Regions from separate parts of the Homo sapiens genome. Here region 2 is linked to region 1. The links come from fine-mapping of genetic effects on gene expression. A gene starts in region 1. The other region holds a variant in brackets. All regions are shown on one strand. Distances are between the middles of the regions.

Evidence for each region. PIP is the estimated chance that this variant, and not a neighbour inherited with it, causes the effect.
Region 2: its variant is fine-mapped to the expression of IL12RB2 in blood mononuclear cells (TOPMed, PIP 0.94).

Annotation. Positions count from the first base shown.
Region 1 is chr1:67,300,870-67,314,064 of GRCh38, forward strand. It overlaps IL12RB2 (interleukin 12 receptor subunit beta 2), which reads left to right and starts at 7,004. Exons shown (of 17, transcript NM_001374259.2): 1 at 7,004-7,098; 2 at 13,044-13,131. RefSeq lists enhancers at 6,227-6,326, 6,357-6,406 and a silencer at 6,867-7,056.
Region 2 is chr1:67,325,439-67,333,438 of GRCh38, forward strand. IL12RB2 (interleukin 12 receptor subunit beta 2) reads left to right here. Exons shown (of 17, transcript NM_001374259.2): 5 at 1,297-1,411; 6 at 2,762-2,946; 7 at 4,149-4,291; 8 at 5,222-5,372. Among named protein-coding and RNA genes, the nearest start is that of IL12RB2, 22 kb to the left of the region's middle. The variant T/C (reference allele first, on the strand shown) is at 4,198.

The DNA.
Region 1 (13,195 bases):
AAAAAAATTACAGGAATGCAAGATTAGACTTAACACTGACTTCTCAACAGAAACGATGCAAGCCAGAAAACTATGAAATAATATGTTTAATATGCTGGGAGGAGGAGAAGTAAACCTAGAATTTTACATACAGTAAAAAAAATTCTTCAAAAATGAAGGCAAAATAAAACAATTTTTAAGAACACAAAAGCTAAGAAAGTTTGTCAAGAGCAGACCTGTCCTATAGGAAATATTAAAATAAGTTCTTTAGGCTGAAGGGAAATGATACCGGCTGGAAACTTTGATCTATACAAAGGAATAAATAGCACTTGCAATTGTAAATATATGAGGAAATATAGAAAATTTTGGGTTTTATATTTTTTAATTTTTTAAAAGATAACTAAGTAAAGCAAAAATAGTAATAATGTATCATGGGGCTTAAAACATAAATGAAAGTAAAATGTACAATCAAATAGTACAAAAGATATAAGGATAGAAGCATACTGTTGTAAAGTTTTTGTATTATACATAAACTGGCCTACTATTTGAAGGTAGACTGTGATAGATGAATAATAATACATATTTTTAAACTATCAGACATATGAGAAGATGTTTGCAGTCAAAGATACACAGTGTAAGGCAATGAAATATCATTTTTTACATGTTAGATTGATAGATTGATAATTACAGAAGATTTATAGCATTCACTATTAGTGATAATGTGGCATGCTAGTGGAAGTATGAATTACTATAATTTGGATAGTAATGTGGCATAATCCATTAAAGAGAAAAAGCTCATATCCTTTGATTCAACAAGCTACATGTGAGATTATGTTACCCACAAATAAAAGCACCATATATTTGTACAAGTATATGTGTAAGAATATTTTTATTTTGGTGAATATGCTGCATTTTGGGGGAGACAAGGGGGCAGGTGGGAATTAGAAACCTGAAGACCTGTAAATAAGAGAATGGTTGACTAAATCTTAGTACATGCATGGTATGGAATACTTGTAGCTATTGAAAAAAAAAATGAGGCCAGGCACGGTGGCTCATGCCTGTAATCCCAGCACTTTTGGGAGGCCGAGGCTCTACTAAAAATACAAAATACAAAAATTAGCAGGGTGTGGTGGCACATGCCTGTAGTCCCAGCTACTTGAGAGCTGAGGCAGGAGAATCATTTGAACCCAGGAGGCGGAGGCTGCAGTGAGCTGAGATCGTGCCACTGCACTCCAGCCTGGGCAACAGAGTGAGACTCTGTCTAAAAAAAAAAAAAAAAAAAAAAAAAGAGAGAGAGGAAAAAAGAAAAAAAATGAGAGCGCTACTACGTGCATTATGGAATGAAGTTTGTGTCATGTGGTAAAAGGAAAACGAAAGATAGATGGATGGACAGATAGGGAAATAGAATAGCTCAATTTGTTTAAACCTAGAATATATTTTCTGTATGGCTTAAATATAAAAGAAAAACCTAAAACGCTTTTATACGTCTATAAAGGCATGAAGAAAAATGTGGAAAGATTCTCGTAAAACTATTATTTGGGAAGGAGAGACTGGAGGGGAAAGGAAATATTATTAACATTTGATACTACTCTGCAGTGTTTGATTTGTAGAAAAGGATACTTAATTGAGATTCTTCCTGCCTCTTTAGCAGAGGTCCTACAGGCCAAAATAAAAAAACTAATGCATTCACCACTGAAGACAGTGGTACTTTGGACCAGTGACTTCTGGTGTGTCACATGCTTCTCTGTTTCCTAAGCTGAGCATTCATTGTCCCTGTTCCACCATTTTATATCCTTGGAGCGGGGCAGGGCGAGGTGGGAGGTGCAGGTAACCTGGGTTTTTTACTTGTTTGTTTATAGGCTGTGGACCCAGAGGAGGCATATCTCACTAGGTAGCCACCACTGCTCATTTTTCAGAGAGCTTGGATCTCAGCTGGATGCCATGACTGGACAGGACTTTGGGTTGTCTCATTTGGGAAATCAGAGTATTTTCTATGTATGAGAAGCATGGAAAAAAAGGACATTTGAAGCCAGAAGAGTGGAATGTAGAAAAGAATCTTAATGATTATACATCCACATTTCAGAGTACTTCTCATAGGGCTTCTGTTGATGTACTCTACAACAAACCAAAAACAAACAAACAACAACGACAACAAAAATGAGGAACATATGTGTGGTTTTATGTGGGAATGTTTGTGAGAAATTTGCCTTTTATGCAAATCACTCTCCTTTTTATAAGAACTTGCCAAAGTTTTGCACCACCAAAAGTTCTGGCTCTGATGATCAGGTAACCAGCCATGACATGATGGAATCTGTGAATCCTGTAACATATGTTTAGATTTAGCTGCTAAGAATAGCAGAGCCAGTTTGTGAATAAAGTTTATGTTGTGTAGGACCCTGCAGCTATCACAGCTTTAAATTTACCTCATGTCTCACTTTACTCTTTAACCTTTATGTTCATTTAACAAGGCATCCAGCAATCTAAAGACCTCTCAAAAACGCACTGCTGCTCTCCAAGACATGGCAATTTCCATGTGGTTTGTTCATCTTTTTTTTTTTTTTTTTTGGACAGAGTCTTGCTCTGTTGCCCAGGCTGGAGTGCAATGGTGCCATCTTGGCTCACTGCAACCTCTGACTCCCGGGTTCAAGCCATTCTCCTGCCTCAGCCTCCTGAGTAGCTGGGATTACAGGTGAGTGCCACCATGCCTGGCTAAGTTTTGTATGTTCAACAGAGATGGGATTTCTCCATTTTGGCCAGGCTGGTCTTGAACTCCTGACCTCAGGTGATCCACCTGCTTCAGCCTCCCAAAATGCTGAGATTATATGTATGAGCCACTGAGCCTGGCCAGTTTGTTCCTCTATAAACAATGTTTGTGCTTGTTAAATGTCAGTTGTGGAGAAGGTATAAGTCTACATTTTAAGAATTATGGAGATTATTCATAATCTGAGAATCTGGTATTGCACTATTTTAATTTTATATAAACTTTTTCAATACATAACACTACAAATATATTCAGGAGTTATGTTGCTGTCCTATAAGTTTAATACTTTGGAGAGATGAGTAAAACTAACAAAGTAATAACTTTTAGAAATGAAACTTTTACAAAATGAAGCAGTTAAGGTTGAACAGTTAATCTTAGATTCTGAGTTTTCTCATTATAAGTAAAAGTTTAAAATGATGTTAAAACCGTCTTACCAAGTTTAACGAGTGCCAGCATTCATTTGATGCCCTAAATGACTATGTTAGCAACCACCTCCTAGTATTTATCCTGACAAGTGACACTTTAGGAAAAGCACATCTCAGTTATTCATAGAATAGTGTGATTACGTATTTTCAGGGTGTTTGGTATCAGCAATGAACCAAATTAGACATTTAAAGTAATGGAACTATACCAGAAATGGAAACTGAACTAGTATTTCCTAGAAAAGACTTTGTCACTGTCACTGTGGTTATCCACTTAATTGAGCTTTTGATTTACAAGTACATTCATTTACCTAACAGCTACACAGAAGACCATATCATACCCATAGACTTAAAAATGATTACATTAACAATCACAGTTGACATTTTGGGTTGTATATTAGGCTCTTGCTTCATCAGGCATCGTCTACCATCTAGGGTTTATTCTTTAGAAAGCACAGAAGCAAGTTTGTCTTTGTTGTTATTTTTGTTTTCATTGTTATTTTTGTTTTTGTTTTTTTCTCTAACTAGACAGGCAACCACTGACAAAAGCCATGCCTGTATTAGTGAAACTCCCAGATATTAATAGGAGGAGAAGGCAGAAAAAAGAAGTGGGGAAATAGAAAGGCCTCTACAGATGGTGATTTCATACAGAAAGGTTACCGACTTGCTAAGAAAAATTATATTTAATTTTCCAACTAATTTTTAACTGTCGAAAAGTGTGAAGATTGAACAACACCTACAATCCCGTTGAACTGGCCAAAAAGAATGGGATCTCTCCAGAACAAGTCAGTTCAACTCAGTAAATACTTATTGACTACCTGCCCTGTACCACTCAGTGTGCCAGATGCTGAAGATGAGGGATCCTTGCGTGCATAGAGTTTATAATCCAGGGAGCATGCAGGATAAGAGAACCACTGTTATCAATGGCAATCAGTGCAAGTCTTCACTTGATAATGTAAGTCTAAGTTAAACAATATACTGATGGACCTAGAGCATGATAATTTCTCAAATAATACTTATGTAAGAGTTGTCATCTTCTGACTTTTTTTTTCTTGCATCTAGGGAAAAGAAGAGAATAAAGAAGATTATCATTGCTACCTGCATCTTACTGTATTCTCATAATTTGTTGTGCTTGCTTAACAACCAGATTCAAGTTCTTTCCTCAACAGCTCTCATCTGTTCCCTCAAAGAATATGCCTTAGATGCATTTGAGACACCATTTTGTGTCTGACTTCTGCAATTTTGTAAGATGCTGCCATTAGAAGTTAATAGAGCAGTGGTCTTTCAACATTTTAGATGGTATACTCCTTCAGAAAAAAAAAAAAAGCATTTTTGAGAAACATCCCCAACATATGTTTGGTTGTTTTTTTATTTCCTTGAAAAACATATGTATGCCGGGCGCGGTGGCTCACGCCTGTAATCCCAGCACTTTGGGAGGCTGAGGTGGGCAGATCACGAGGTCAGGAGTTTGAGACCAGCCTGGCCAATATGGTGAAACCCCATCTCTACTATAAATACAAAAATTAGCCGGGCATGGTGGCGCGTGCCTGTAGTCCCAGCTACTCAGGAGGCTGAGGCAGGAGAATCACTTGAACCCGGGAGGTGGAGGTTGCAGTGAGCTGAAATTGTGCCACTGTACTCTAGCCGGGGCAACAGAGTGAGACGCTGTTTCAAAAAAAAAAAAACAGAAAAACATATGTATATTTATATGTGTGTATATACACACACACACATATGCACACACAAATATATAAATTAAATTTTTAAATGAGATAGAGTAAAATGCATTTTTGAAATTATTGATTTATTAACAAAACTAAAAGCCTTCCTTCTCACTAAAAAGTGTTGAAAAATCCATGAATTATGCAAGATTGTTATAACATTTGGCTATCATAATCTTATTCTTGATATCAATCAGTTTTTAAAGTAATGAGAAGCTGCTGCATTTTTATATTTTTTAACAAATGGATTTAAAATCCACTGAACTGCTCAATTAAAAGATTGAAACAAAATAGCAAATTGTTTCCGAGTTTTTAAAAGCATTTTCTGTGATGACAATCATAAAATCTTCAGTAAGAAAAACACACAATAATGGGAACACTTCGAAATATTTGTTTTCAAATCGTCTCTTCATAACAACGTATCACTTGGTGTGAAAATTACCTTGAAGAAACAACAAATAAACCTCTGGGGTTTTTTGTTCTTCAAAAAGATCTATTAGATAACATGTACTGAGAGCCATATATCAATACAGAAAAGATCAGCAAATTTAGGATATTTGGGGTTTTTTTGTAAAAATAAAGAAAATAACTCACTTTAAGACAACTTTTAAAATCTTTGTTACAAATGATTTCTACAATTATGTATCATCTCATTACAAAGTAATATTAAGATTCTAGATTCTACGATTTAAAAGATTTTAGTAAAATTATTCATGTAGATAAATTACTAAAGCATGTAAACTACAGTATGTCACAATCCCATAAAGACAATCTACTGTACATTGTTGATTCCAAGATGTACATTTTTCATATTTAACATCTCAAACATTGAGAGCGGTTTTAAGGTAATGCCCAGAAGCGTGGTATGCAGTTGTCCACTTCTGCGGGCTCAGCAAACCTGTACTGGGCTCAGTGGACTAGAAGAAAACTCCAGAGACAACGGGGTGGGGGAGGGGGGGGGACTTAAAAAAAAATTCGATAGATAATATACATATGTTTAAAATCTAAATTTTATTTAGAGATATCTAAATAAAATCTCTAAACTAAATAAAATTTTAGTTTAAAAGATTCTAAATGTTGAGAAAGCATTGTTATTGTTTACCTGGCAGTTCTTTTTATTTCTTACTAGCGCATAAATAATGGTATATCTTATAATTAAGGAAGTCTTAGATTTAAAGAAATCTAAGCTGACGGGTGCAGAGGCTCAGGCCTGTATTCCCTGCACTTTGGGAAGCCAAGGCGGGAGGATTGCTTGAGGCCAGAAGTTTGAGACCAGCCTGGGTAACAGAGTGAGAGTCTGTCTTTACAGGTTTAAATACAGTTTTTTTCTAAGTAATATTGTCATAAATATTATGTCATGAATATTATGCAGAGCTGCCGACCCCTCTGTACTCTGGGCAGTTTTCCCTCTTGCCTGAGAACACCACTTATAACACGGGACCTATACGGGAGTGGTGACACGCCATCTGTTCAAGTTTAACTTTTTTCTCATTTTTTAGACAGCAAATACAAATGGAAGTTCCAGTATGTTCTGCCCGCACTCCAGTGGGCGGTCTTGTGCACAGCCCACTTGGGAGGCCTCGGCGCTCAGGTGTGGTAAGAGCTGGGCGGTGCAGAGCACAGAGAAAGGACATCTGCGAGGAAAGTTCCCTGATGGCTGTCAACAAAGTGCCACGTCTCTATGGCTGTGAACGCTGAGCACACGATTTTATCGCGCCTATCATATCTTGGTGCATAAACGCACCTCACCTCGGTCAACCCTTGCTCCGTCTTATGAGACAGGCTTTATTATCCGCATTTTATATGAGGGGAAACTGACGGTGGAGAGAGAATTATCTTGCTCAAGGCGACACAGCAGAGCCCACAGGTGGCAGAATCCCACCCGAGCCCGCTTCGACCCGCGGGGTGGAAACCACGGGCGCCCGCCCGGCTGCGCTTCCAGAGCTGAACTGAGAAGCGAGTCCTCTCCGCCCTGCGGCCACCGCCCAGCCCCGACCCCCGCCCCGGCCCGATCCTCACTCGCCGCCAGCTCCCCGCGCCCACCCCGGAGTTGGTGGCGCAGAGGCGGGAGGCGGAGGCGGGAGGGCGGGCGCTGGCACCGGGAACGCCCGAGCGCCGGCAGAGAGCGCGGAGAGCGCGACACGTGCGGCCCAGAGCACCGGGGCCACCCGGTCCCCGCAGGCCCGGGACCGCGCCCGCTGGCAGGCGACACGTGGTGAGTGACCAGTGACTCGGGGTCGGGGACAGAGAGAGCCCCAGGATCCCGGACCAGCGGGGTGTCTGCGTGCCCGGGATTCCGTGTCTCGCGTCTCCCGAGGGGGCTTCGGCGACGGCTTCTCTCTTTATATATATATATGTATATATATATTTTTAAAGTCTTCCAATACGATCCGAAATGGCTTCTCTTCATCACAGTCCTAACGCCCTGGGCACAGATGTTCACTTGGAGGTACTGGGTGGTGGTTTGGCTGGATGGAGGGGAGGGAGCGCGCGGACTGAGCCTCCAAGGTACTCTCTGGGCCGGGGCACAGAGTGGTGGGCTCAAACGGAAGGGAGGGGACGGCGACTGGAAAAGGGCAGAGGGCACCCCTGAGGGTCCAGCCTTGGTTCAGGCCCACAGACGTGGCTCCCGTTGCTTGAAAATGTATCAAATGTGAGTAAGATATTGGGGGGGGCCTTCCGTAGTCCCGGATGAGGGTGAACTAACCTTGTCTCAGCAGTCTTTCCTGTGGCCTCTGGACTGACCCCGAGTCCCTGCCTGGCCAGTTACTAGCAAGATGCTCTGGTGCAAGCAAATTGGCCAGCCTCAGTTTTCTCTTCTGTGAAATGCCCCTTCCTTTGTGAACTATGAGGCCCTCCTCATCTCCCTAGGACACACTAAATATCAGTGTCAGCATTGTACGGGATTATGTATCTGTACCATTAGATCCAGGTCTTACAAATAGTAACCTAAAAGCATACAAATAGACCTTGTCTAAGAACAGGGTCCCGGCACGGTGGCTCACGCCTGTAATCCCAGCATTTTGGGAGGCCAAGGTGGGCAGATCACTTGAGGTCAGGAGTTCAAGACCAGCCTGGCCAACATGGTGAAACCCTGTCTCTATTAAAAATACGAAAATTAGCTGGGCATGATGACGCACACCTGTAATCCCAGCTACTCGGGAGACTGAGGCAGGAGAATTGCTTGAACCCGGGAGACAGAGGTTACAGTGAGCCAAGATGGGGCCACTGCACTCCAACCTGGGCAACAGAGCGAGACTCTGTCTTAAAAATAAATACATACATACATATACATATATATATATATACACACACACACATACACATATATATATAAAGAATAAAGCTAAATTAGTCCTTTTTTCCCCATTTTTAAAACTCTAGATAATTGTTATAATCTGCTATGTGTGTGCTCTGTGTAGATGAACATCTTTGTTGAGCACCTACTATGTATTTGGTTTTTGGATATATATTATCTAATTCCTTAAAAACATGGTGAAATTGTTATTAGTATTCCCATTTTACAGATGTGGAAACTTACATGTTTCACACAGTTAGAGAGTTACAGGTTTCTGGCTCAAAACTGTGTTCCTTCTGTTTCCACCTCTCTGGCTCAGAACCTTATAACCACCTCCACTTGAACAAACAAACGTTGGATTCTCATTTTCCATTAATAGGAATGGTACAGTGCCCTATTTCTCTGTCCAACACATAACTAAAAGGACCTTAGTGGCTAAGAGCTAACACTTTCCTTCCCTATTTTAATGTGAAATCCTCAATACATTACACTATCTGTTAGGCACAACAGCCTCCAGAAAAGTTTGCAATATGCTCTTTTCCATATGTCATGCCTCTTGAATGTCATGTTCATTACATAGGCTGATAAATTCCCAAACTTTGACAAACGGAATCTTTTCTGTATTAGAATGAGTTTTAGTGTGAAAAAAAATTCGAAAGCACACATGTAATTTTTAAGGTAGAAGAATCCGCCAAGTACAGTAGGTATTGGGCATCATTTCTCAGTTGTGGACTTATTTTTGTATTGCTGCACCTGCTTTGTTCTCTACCAAATTATTTGTCATCTTTGTAATTACGCTCACAGCACTGCTGTCAACTCCTACAAATAAATTTGTGCAGAATGGCGGGACACGGTGTCTCATACCTGTAATCCCAGCACTTTGGGAGGCCGAGGTGGGGGGATCACCTGAGGTCAGGAGTTTGAGACTAGCCTGACCAACATGGCGAAACCCTGTCTCTACTGAAAACACAAAAATTAGCGGGGCATGGTGGCACACACCATGTGGCATGGTAATCCCAGCTACTCGGGAGGTTGAGACAGGAGAATCGATTGAACCCGGGAGGCAGAGGTTGCAGTGAGCAGAGATCACGCCACTGCACTCCAGCCTGGGCGACAAGAATGAAACTTCATCTCAAAAAAAAAAAAAAAAAAAAAAAAAGCCAAATCCCAAAGGAAGTCTTATACAATTTCCTTTGCCCTTGGAAGTTTCTAGTGTTCTTCGCTAGTGTAACAGTGGTTTGTTTTTGTTTTTGTTTTCCAAATAAGTATTGAACATGTACATTATGGTCAGTGCATTTGCTGGACTTAGACTTAGTGAATATAAAGAAATGTAAGGCCCAGTTCATGACCTACGAAGTCAAAATTGTTTGGGAAAATTTTGAGAATACTTAATATGTCTTAAATGATAGGTGGCATGAAGTTAGGAGGTATGGAATCTAGTTTTAATCAAATCAGTCTTTCAGTGTTAAATCAGATGAATGGGCAAAGAGAGGAGTCAAAAGCAAGGCCATCTAACTTAATTCTCGTAGTGTCACTGAAAAGAAGTAATACTGCCTTTTTTCTTATAATAATAGCAGGTAACATTGATTGAGCTCTTGCTATATACCAGGTACTCTGCTAACAGCTTGTCATTTAACCCTCCCAACAATCCTGTGAGATAGGTGCTGGTTTTTTGTTTGTTTGTTTTTTGTTTTTGAGACGGAGTCTTGCTGTCGCCAGGCTGGAGTGCAGTGGTGCGATCTTGGCTCACTGCAACCTCTGCCTCCCGGGTTCAGGTGATTCTCCTGCCTCAGCCTCCCAAATAGCTGGGATTACAGGCGCACACCAGTATGCCCAGCTAATTTTTGTATTTTTAGTACAGACGGAGTTTCACCATGTTGGTTAGGATGGTCTCGATCTCTTGACCTCGTGATCTGCCCGCCTCAGCCTCCCAAAGTGCTAGGATTACAGGTGTGAGTCACCACGTCCGTCCAGTAGGTGCTGTTTGTATTCCCTTTTTACAGATGAAGGAACTTAGGCTGAGTGGTCAAGTGATTTGTCACAGGCCATATAGCTGGAATTATCCGAGCCAAGACTTAGGTGTCCTGGGCGGATCCACTGCTCTTTTCATTACTACTACAGTTGCTCAGGAGGCTCTTCTGGGAGCTTGGACTGAGGTGATGAGCGTAAACATGGTTCAATGCCTCTTGGAGGTAGTAGCTTTGTGGGTTTAACATGGGAGCCCTGAGGCATGCTGAGAATAAATGAGAGGGGTAAGCCTGTTCCTGCAGAATTTAAACCGATAGAAGAGGGAAAGCAGTTAGACTAACAGAGCATCAAGCTTGGATTTTTATTTCTCAGGTGCTCATGGAGAAGGGAAGCATAGAATGTAATTCGAATCCAATTCTGGATTTATGTGTGGTTTTTCTGGGTTATCTTGGTCAACTTACAGATTTTTCTATCTGTAGAATAGGATACTAATCATTACTTTATGTATTTGACCAAATATTAACAACTAAATTATATGCTTTGCACAGTGATAAACTACTAAGTAAATGCCTACAAAAGATTGTTAAAATTAGAATCTTAATTAACCTCTATTTTGCAATGATATGCAGGAAAAGCAACACATTAAGTAAAATATCAGGAGATACTGAGATGGAGGGTTGTTAGTGTAGAGACTTCAGCTGAATTCTTAATTTATATGAGAAACCTGGGGAAACATTGTGGCATGGTGATCACTACCCTTAGTTTTTTAATTCCCCTCCCAAGTGTGCCTCCAATTATCTTAAGATAATTGTGAAATTCTTAGAAAATTCTCAAAACAATGCAATTATCTTAATATGTTAATGCCTTGTAGTACTTTATGAAAATACTCAGTGGTTGCTTACAAGGTGAAGCAAAACTTGGCCAGGACTTTGCAATACCCAAGATCCAAAGATAAACCTCCTGCCATTGTCCACAAACAGAGACTTCCAGATTGAGGATGTCAAAGAAAAAACCTTTCCAATACACTAAGGAAGAAAAGTTAGTGAAAGAGGTTTAGTTTTCTCAATAAAGGTCAATTGCTATTTTTAAAATAAGGAAAGGAGGCTTTGAAGTATGAAGTTACCTGCCATGGTGACAGAGGCAGAAATGGAGGAACCAAGGATGGTGCCCGGGGCCTCTTTCCAGCACATCATCCTTCCCAATAGAAGACAGCTTATTTTATCGATAGGCCTAGCAGGATACAGAGAGTGAATCAGAGAAGGCTGGAGTTTCCGAAGCTTTATTGAACACTTGCCATGAAAGTTTTAGGCTTATGGGAGCTATTCAAAGAAAGAAAAGAGGTCATGTAGTTTATTTGAAAGTGTCTTGTTTCTCCAAGACTCCATTCGTATCTTGTTTCTTTCTTTCTTTTTACTGTTATATTGGAGAAATGCTTGTTCAATCTATAGGATAAAATAGTTCTCAGTACAGATGATTGAGGGGTTGGGGTGGGATAAATTCATTTCAACTCTGATTTGTTTACGCACAACATTTCAGGAGTCTATTATGTCAAATGGGATGTATCTAAAATGGAAATAAAGACAAACAGAATTGACAGAAACAACATTCCAGAAAAAATAGGAAAAGAAGAGAGAAAAGAATAAAGGAAGTTAAGAAAAAAAAAAAGCCATAAAGAGGGAAAGGAGAAAACACATTGAATTTAAAAAAAAAAAAAAAGGAACAAAAATTCGGAAGTCTCCTGAATTTGAGCAAGAAAAGAAAGTTCCTGTACTTGGGTGAAATTAAAGAGGAACCATAGGACAGCAAATGCTTACCAATGAAATTAGAGAAAATTCCAGGCAGCCTCGTCAGCTGCACAAAAAGGAAAACAAGTGTGTGTGTTAAATTTGGCTCATGTAAACAGTGCTTGGACTATTGAATAGAAAGAAGAAAAAGTAGAAAAGGTTATGCATTTTACTTTCCTTCCCCTTCAAGCCATTTACCATGACATTATGAATGGGGCCGGTTTGATGATGGGGCCTGATAGACGGGCTTTTGCCCATGTAATGGCTTGTTACATTCTTTCACCAAATGGTAGACTTGGAATGAAAAACAGTTCATTTTCATGACCATAACTCAGGAAATTTCATGAAGAAGAGAAGGTTAGCTAATTGGTAACTTGATTTGATTATCCTTTTCCATCACCATAGTGGAATAGCATCAGATACGGTTACATATTGTATGTGCGCTGAGTTTTGTTGTTTCATCCTCTTTTGAGGGAGGTGGGCCTCAGAAGTAATGAGTCAACCTTCTGAAGAGTAAAGCATTAGGCATTATAAATGCTTTACTAGATAGATATCATAAAGATTGTATGTAAGGTGCCTAGCATCGTGCCTGAAACATAGTAAGAGATCAAAAAATTGCAGCATTAGTATTAGTATAGTGTTAAGATTAGCATTATTTTTAGTATTATGCTGCTACTGTTGCTATTGATTACAAGCAGCCTCACATCTAGAAGTGATGTTGGATTAGAAATCAGGAGACTGGCCGGGCACGGTGGCTCATGCCTGTAATCTCAGCACTGTGGGAGGCCGAGGCAGGCAGATCACCTGAGGTCAGTTCAAGACCAGCCTGGCCAACATGGTAAAACCCCATCTCTACTAAAAATACAAAAATTAGCTAGCCAGGTGTGGTGGCGCATGCTTATAGTCCCAGCTGCTCAGGAGGTTGAGGCAAGAGAATCGCTTGAACCCAGGAGGTGGAGGTTGCAGTGATCCAAGATGGTGCCATTGCACTCCAGCCTGGGTGACAGAACGAGACTGCATCAGAGAGAAAGAGAGAGAGAGAGAGACTGAGGTTCTGATCTGGATTTTGCTATTAATGTGAACTTGAGCAAGTCCCCTCTTTTTTTCTAGGTCACGGTGATCCATTTGTAAAGTCGGGAATAAATGACCTCTGAAGTGTTGTCTGTATATTGATCTGCTACCAGTAAAACATATCTCTGTAAGTAGCTTTGCAGGCAGAAGGGAAGAATTTTGTTCTTTGCCTCATTTAGTCACCTGATCAT
Region 2 (8,000 bases), 22 kb after region 1:
TTAAGTAAAGAAGAGGTTTCACCATGTTGGCCAAGCTAGTCTCAAACTCCTAACTTCAAGTGATCTGCCCACCTCAGCCTCCCAAATTGTTGGGATTACAGGCGTGAGCCACCGCATCCAGCGAAAAGAGACTTTTTTAAAGGAAAAGTTTATTATTCTATTAAAACTATATGAGCTAGATATCATTATACCCATTTTATAGATTCAACTGAAGCTCTGACTTGTCCAAGGTCACACAGTGGGCATTCCTGTGCCTATGTCTATGGTGGATGCTAAGGACAAAAAAGATATTTATTTAATCAATAACAGATTTTTTCAGTGTAGACAATAGCTAGGACTTCTGTAGTATACTCATTTTATCTAACCTAAAGGAAATATGTATCTACACGTGGGTCTGGGTATTAGGGTAAAATGGGATGACTGAATAGCTGAGTATTTCTCTTACCTCCATTTTGTCCAAAAAATTCCTAGTTTGGGTCCTTTCACCATAAAATAGCTTTATTTAAAAATACACACCTTACAATAGAAGGGACCATGCTTGCTTTGTACATCTTTGTATTTCCACATCTAGCACTGTGCTTGGCTCGTGGGAGGTACTCAATGCCTATGTACACAAAAGAATTAATTTATAAATGTCCATAAAGTGCTCCAAGAGACAATGCAGAAATTAGATTTAGATGGTATAGCCCGGGAGGACATGACTGAGGCAACTGGGTGTAAGTGTCTTGACAGCAAATATCAGGTGAAGAAAGCAAATAAGTCTCTCATTTTTAAAGGTTTCTAATATTTGAATGGGCATCACTCTAAAAGAAATTAATTTATTATTACCAGGGGTAATGGAGCTAGCACTGGATGTTCACCTGTCAGGGAAAATGGTAGAATATGGAGTAAAAGGCTTGGACTTGAGTTACAGCTGAGCTGGAGCCTTGAATCTGCCACTTCATAATTTTATGATCTTGGGCCAGATATTTCACCTCTCTCAGTTTCCTCTCTGAAAAAAAATATAATAATAGTATCTACCTCATGGGGTGCTACGCTGTCTAATTCAGAAAAACTGCACATAGCACTGGGCTAGGCATATAGTATTTGATCCATATTCACTACTATTATTACTGTTTCTAGGAGAAATTTACACCTTAATGGCAAACTGGGACTTGAATGGAATCTAAAATAGCTTCTAGTTTACCTGGGTTTACGGCATGTGGGGGACGTATTGTCATGTTGATGGCAGATAATAACAATTCGGTTGAAATATCACCTGTGTGATATATAAGGTTTTGTCTTTTCTTTTTAAAGTTGCTCCAGAACAGCCTCAAAATTTATCCTGCATACAGAAGGGAGAACAGGGGACTGTGGCCTGCACCTGGGAAAGAGGACGAGACACCCACTTATACACTGAGTATACTCTACAGTGAGTGAGAGGCTGTATTTTTGCAGCTGTTTTGTAGATCTTCTCTTAAATGACATTTAGAAATATCTGTTTTCTTTATTTATTTTTATTTTATTTTATTTATTTATTTATTTATTTATTTATTTATTTTGAGACGGAATCTCACTCTGTCACCAGGCTAGAGTGCAGTGGCGCAATCTCGGCTCACTGCAACCTCTGCTTCCTGGGTTCAAGTGATTCTCCTGCCTCAGCCTCCTGAGTGGCTGGGATTACAGGCACCCACCACCACGCCCAGCTAATTTTTGTATTTTTAGCAGAGACGGGGTTTCACCATGTTGGCCAGGATGGTCTCGATCTCTTGACCTCGTGATCCACCCGCCTCAGCCTCCCAAAGTGCTGGGATTACAGGTGTGAGCCACGGTGCCCGGCCTATCTGTTTTATTTTTACCAGAAAGGAGAAGCAATAGATACTTCTAGACAATTAGATACTTTTTAAAGAGTTTCTATGTTTATAGTTAAAACTGGTTCATTCATCTACAGTATGAGAGACCGAATGTCTTGGGTCTGAGTTCTAACTCAGAGTTCTCTTCAGTGCATCCAAGATCCAAGTTATAGCTGTTCTTTCCCACTCTAGTAGGGTTAAACTGGCTGCATAAGATCGCTTCTCTTTTCTGCAGCTGTAGGCTCTTGGGGTCATGATACATAAATAAACTCTTCCTTGTGGTAGTTTCCCATTCGCTTGGATAAGTTTCTTTTTAAAGCACCATTGGCTGACCTAAGAGTCCATGAGAAGAGAGAGTCTGGGAGATTCTGTTCCTTGAAGTAGATTTCATGATCCCATTAAAGATCCAGCTGATTTGTGCTATTCCTGAGTGAGGAGGAGATGGAGGAAAGGAGGGGTTCTGTAGTACATTTACTTTTTCTAACCTAAAGGAAACATCTATTGACACGCGGGTCTCAGTATTAGGGTAAAATAGCCCAGGATTCTACTCTGGCCACTGCTGTACTAGGAACTGACAATTCTGTGCCACAGATGTCAAGGTGGCCACAGTGCTTAGGATAATGTTTGGAACTGCCCTGGGGAGCCAAGATGACAAGCAGGGTTTGGGGAATTTCAGCAGCGTAGGCTTGGTTACCTATCTACATGAATGTGGAAGAACATCTCAGTTCTACCAAAAAAGGGAGTTGGGTGAAGTATAGTCTTACATGACCATATAGTACAAATATTCCCGGGGTGTATCCCCTAGTCATAAGATTGACCTTTAAAAATTGTCTAGAATTCTAAATATTTAAACATTTTGTTCTTTTCTACTGTAAGTAGAAAGTAGCACATAAAACATGTTGCTACACGTGGTTGTGTTTTGTTTACAGGCTAAGTGGACCAAAAAATTTAACCTGGCAGAAGCAATGTAAAGACATTTATTGTGACTATTTGGACTTTGGAATCAACCTCACCCCTGAATCACCTGAATCCAATTTCACAGCCAAGGTTACTGCTGTCAATAGTCTTGGAAGCTCCTCTTCACTTCCATCCACATTCACATTCTTGGACATAGGTACATTTTATTTCACTGTTTCATTGGTACTTTATAATTATTTTTAAAATCACTCAAATCTTTTTTATATGGTTGTTTCAAGAAAGACAGAGATTGATGGAAATTGGCCAACAGGCATAAGCAAAAGATAGAAGTTACTTTGATGCAAGTAAAAGGGTGCATTATTCTGAGCTATCTAAAGATGGCTATACAAAGTGGGATGTTCAACATTATTCTCTCTATTGAAGAAATTAGCCCCTGGATTCAAATCCCATGAAAGAACCAGCTACTAATGATACCACCTGACTGAGGAGAGGGTCCTGTGAGGTCATTCAAGATGCTCAGTGCAAGCCCTTCTTGGAGGAGGTGTCCTTTCGCCCCCATGGCTACTCCCATTGTTGTGAGATAGGCTACATGTGGGCCTGCTAGGCTAGAGCAGCGAGGTACAAACTATAAATAAAATTTCTCAAGTCACAGATGCATCTTGCTCTGAGAATACTCACCTCCATCCCTGGAGTGAGCCAGTACATTTCTGAGCAAATGTAATCGGTCCAGTTGAATCAGAGGCCAATCTCAAGCATTCCAAGTTCTGACCATCCAGGCAGAACTGGGCTGCCTGAAGTTCCAACCTCACACTATGTGCTTCTCGCCTCTCTTTCCATGGCACTTCTCTGCATACATATTGCTAACGATGAGTCTGATCATTGGCATTTACTATACACTTTTCCACCATATTTCTTCTCAGGCTTCCTCCCATTTCTTTCATAGACCGTTCATCTCTAGGCTACCTTCTCGCCCCCTTGTTCTTTTCCTCTGTCCCTTTGCTATGAATTTTCCTACGAACATTTCTTCTCCTCCTGAGGCAGTCATCACTAGCCGTCTCTGGCTTCTCAGTCATTGGAACTCTTGGGTTTGGCACATTGGTTTTTGAAAAACCACTGGACTAAGTGTAGTTGAAACTTACCACTAATGTTGGTAGTAGTTATTTGGTGAAAATGAGATTTGATTAAGGGGGATTATTTTAAAGATTCAGAAGTGAATCCAGCTTTTAAAAAAGTTCTTTCTTAAAGCCTGGAACTTTTCTCTTGTATATTTTACCAAATTTGATGGTTGTGCATCTCAGAACTGAGTTTTGTCAAACTCTTTATAGCTCATGCCAGTACATAAGACAATTGCTGATCACAGATCCTGAACCACACTTTTTTGTTTGTCCTGGTTACTAGTGAGGCCTCTTCCTCCGTGGGACATTAGAATCAAATTTCAAAAGGCTTC[T/C]GTGAGCAGATGTACCCTTTATTGGAGAGATGAGGGACTGGTACTGCTTAATCGACTCAGATATCGGCCCAGTAACAGCAGGCTCTGGAATATGGTAATTATCTTTAGAGTGAAGGAAAAAACACTGAAGCATTCTTAATATTGCTGCGCAGACCTCTGTCTTTTCATACAGCAAAAAATAGAGTTTAAGAATATTTATCCCAAAAGTACACACGAGAGAATTATCAGAAAGTCATGTATGCCTCTGTTGATTAAGAAATATCTTGAATTTTGATCTCTGATTCTGAAATTTTTAAAGCTTTTGTAAACCAATATTAATTTTCTATAGTTTATTTCTAACAGAGGATTCATTTCTCCTTATTATTTACCCTGTCCTGTTATTATTTTTTAGCATTTAAAAAAGATATTGAAAAGAGAAATATTAAGAAATGTCCACAGAGAGTTATATAGAATTTAATATTCCAAAGAAAAGGTCTACAATTTAATATAATATTAGGCATTGCATGTTTTAAAATAAAAGGTATAGGATTATGATTCTTTCCGGGATTGTTGTAAAATTCAATGGCTTATAATAACAAAGGATCAGTCCCACAGATAGCTGATATTCAAGAGAGTATAACTAATTAAAGGGTTTTTTTAAAAAAAAAAAAAGCCAGTGCTATGTTTGTGTTAAAACATTCATCACATCCTAATTGTAATCAAATAAAAAATAATCTCTAGTGTAGAAACTTTGTAGTTTTCAATCTTATTTTTCAGCTGGTTTCAGGATTCCCCTCGAGAACCTACATAGATGGGTTCTTAGTACCCAGAGATTTTGTTTTATTTTTAATGAGATGCTATCATTTCAGATTAATATCATATCTATTCGGTAAGACAGTCACTGATATTTCTTCTCATTTAATGGTAGGTCTGAAAAACAAATAAGATCAAATAGCCTGGGTTTTTTTTTTTTCATTTTATGTTAAAATTCCTTAAATTAGCAATCTAGTATTAATAGGCACTTTAAAAAAATGTCTGTTTCAAGGTTAATGTTACAAAGGCCAAAGGAAGACATGATTTGCTGGATCTGAAACCATTTACAGAATATGAATTTCAGATTTCCTCTAAGCTACATCTTTATAAGGGAAGTTGGAGTGATTGGAGTGAATCATTGAGAGCACAAACACCAGAAGAAGGTATATGTCCAAAATATACATACCTATCGGGGAGCAATAAAGGGGAGAGAGGGGGGAAGATGTAATGATTTCCTTGGAATAGAATCTTTAAACTACTGGTGCTGAATCAAAAAGCATGACTGCATTAGTTAACAAGTTAATTTTTATATTAACTTAAGTGCTGAAACTGTTCAAGGAAATATGTTTGTGTTGCAAGGAAATTTTTAACATTGGGTAAGTTCTACTCCTGTTTGCTATCAGTCATGTTGGTTATAATGCTTGGTTATAACTTATCTCTCTTACTATCTCAGTAACTTATTTCACAGAGCTATAACCAGTAATTAATCTCATTTCTTGTTAAAGCTTCATATGTTTTATATTTTTGATTCTATGAAAAGTAATGTGGCTCAATAAGCCATATGGAAAGCTTGAAAGAAAGTAGGCTCTGGAGACACATATTTCAAAATAAAATTTAGCATCCAGCAATCCTCTCTTGTCCAAATATTATAACACTGTACTTCAAGCCTTTGATATTTACTGCACAAATGAGAACCACCTGGCCACCCATAACTATGAAAAGGATATCAAATGTGTTTTTCAGTCTGATGAATTTTTCTTTTTTAGTAATTATTGGGAAGGGAATGTTATTGAAGTATAAGAAAATATTTTATTGAAGCAAAAATGCCTATGTAAACTTTATGCCAATATTAAATCTTTGGAGACACAAGAAATAGCCATCTGAATATTAGTTTTTAAAAGCACTCATTTAGGCCGGCATGGTCGCTCAGGCCTGTAATCCCAGCACATTGGGAGGCTGAGGTGGGCAGATCACGAGGTCAGGAGTTCGAGACCAGCCTGGCCAGCATGGTGAAATCCCATCTCTACCAAAAAGACAAGAAATTAGCCAAGCATCGTGGTGCGTGCCTGTAATCCCAGCCATTCGGGAGGCTAAGGCAGGAGAATCACTTGAACCCAGGAGGCAAAGGTTGCAATGAGCCAAGATTGTGCCACTGCAATCCAGCCTGGGCAACAGATCGAGACTGCATCTCATAAATAAATAAATAAATAAATAAATGCACTCATTTAGTGATATAGTAGAGAGTCTTTCATAATTTATATAAATTTGACTCAGAGAAAAACTTTTTGGCATATAATCCATTGTTCATTATCTGGAGCTTTTGTAACATTAACGTGCAAAATCTAAATTCTTATTTGTGAAATTTATGGATATGTGTGCATGTAAACTAGCCTCATAATTAAGTTGCATTTATTTTCTGTGAGCTACTAATGGCTTTTGATAACTGATGATCCTTAGCAATCATACATCAATGACATTCAAGGAACGGAAGGGCCTTTAGCAGAATATAATACCTAATATATGATTCATAGAATAATCTTATATTCTTCCTTACTTCTTGTATTAATTGCATTTTTTTTTTTTTTTGAGACAGAGTCTTGCTCTGTCACCCAGGCTGGAGTGCAGTGGCACAATCTCAGCTCAGTGCAACCTCTGCCTCCTGTGTTCCAGTGATTCTCCTGCCTCAGCCTCCCAAGTAGCAGGGATTACATGCATGCGCCACCATGCCCGGCTAATTTTTGTTATTTTCAGTAGAGACAGGTTTCACCATGTTGGCCAGGCTGGTCTCGAACTCTTGACCTCAGGTGATCCACCTGCCTCGGCCTCCCAAAGTGCTGGGATTACAGAATATATTTTAAAAATTGTCTAAAAGTGAATTTATCCAACAAATGATAATTTATTACCACTCATTTTATAATAAAATCTCTTAATGTTGAACCACTTGCCCTCTGGTTGTTACTTTTATAATCCAGAGCTTACTCATAATATCGTTTTATTATATATAGTCAAAGTAATTTTTTTAAAGACTATCTCATGAATTAGATTTTGTTTATATATGTGGTACAGATAAAACTTCTGAAAATGGGCTATATTTTATATCCAAGTTCAAGGTAGTAAGTAGTCTGAAAAATATTTAAGTTATATCACATTAAGCTAAACTATAAACTAGGGAAACTCTGGGCTTGTGAATTCTTGTCATTCTTACTCACATATGATAATGACCTAGTTAGAGATGTGTGAAAAGGTTTTTCTTTTCTTTTTTAAAAAGTGTTTGTCTTTTGAATTAAAATTCCTTCAAGGCAGCACAGTAACTTTCTTATTTCCTATAAAATAAACCACCATCATAACAATGAGTATAGCAACTCATTATGGTTATGAACTCATGGATGATTATGAATTGAACCTAGGAAGCTGGCTTATTCAGTCACTGAAGGTATTCATAAAGAGAGAAACCCATACTCTGAGATACACCACCTTTACCAAGCTCTGTTGGCTTCCTTTCTGTCTCTGAATCTCCCTTTTCTATGTTTGATTTTTCTGTGGGTTGTTGTAGGTCTTTTTTCTCTTACTCTAGGCTGCTTGGTTTTCACCCCTTACCCGCTGTTTCTGTCATCAGTTTCTTTATGAAACACCAACTGATGTAAACGTAAAAGGTGTGAATTTTTTTTAACACGTCTTCCTTTTAACCCTTTCAATGTGTACTCATATGTAACTTGGCATTTAAAAAAAATTAATAGTAAGCTTTTTTTTTTTTTTTTTTAGGTACTCTCTAAAACTGTGAATGACTCTAC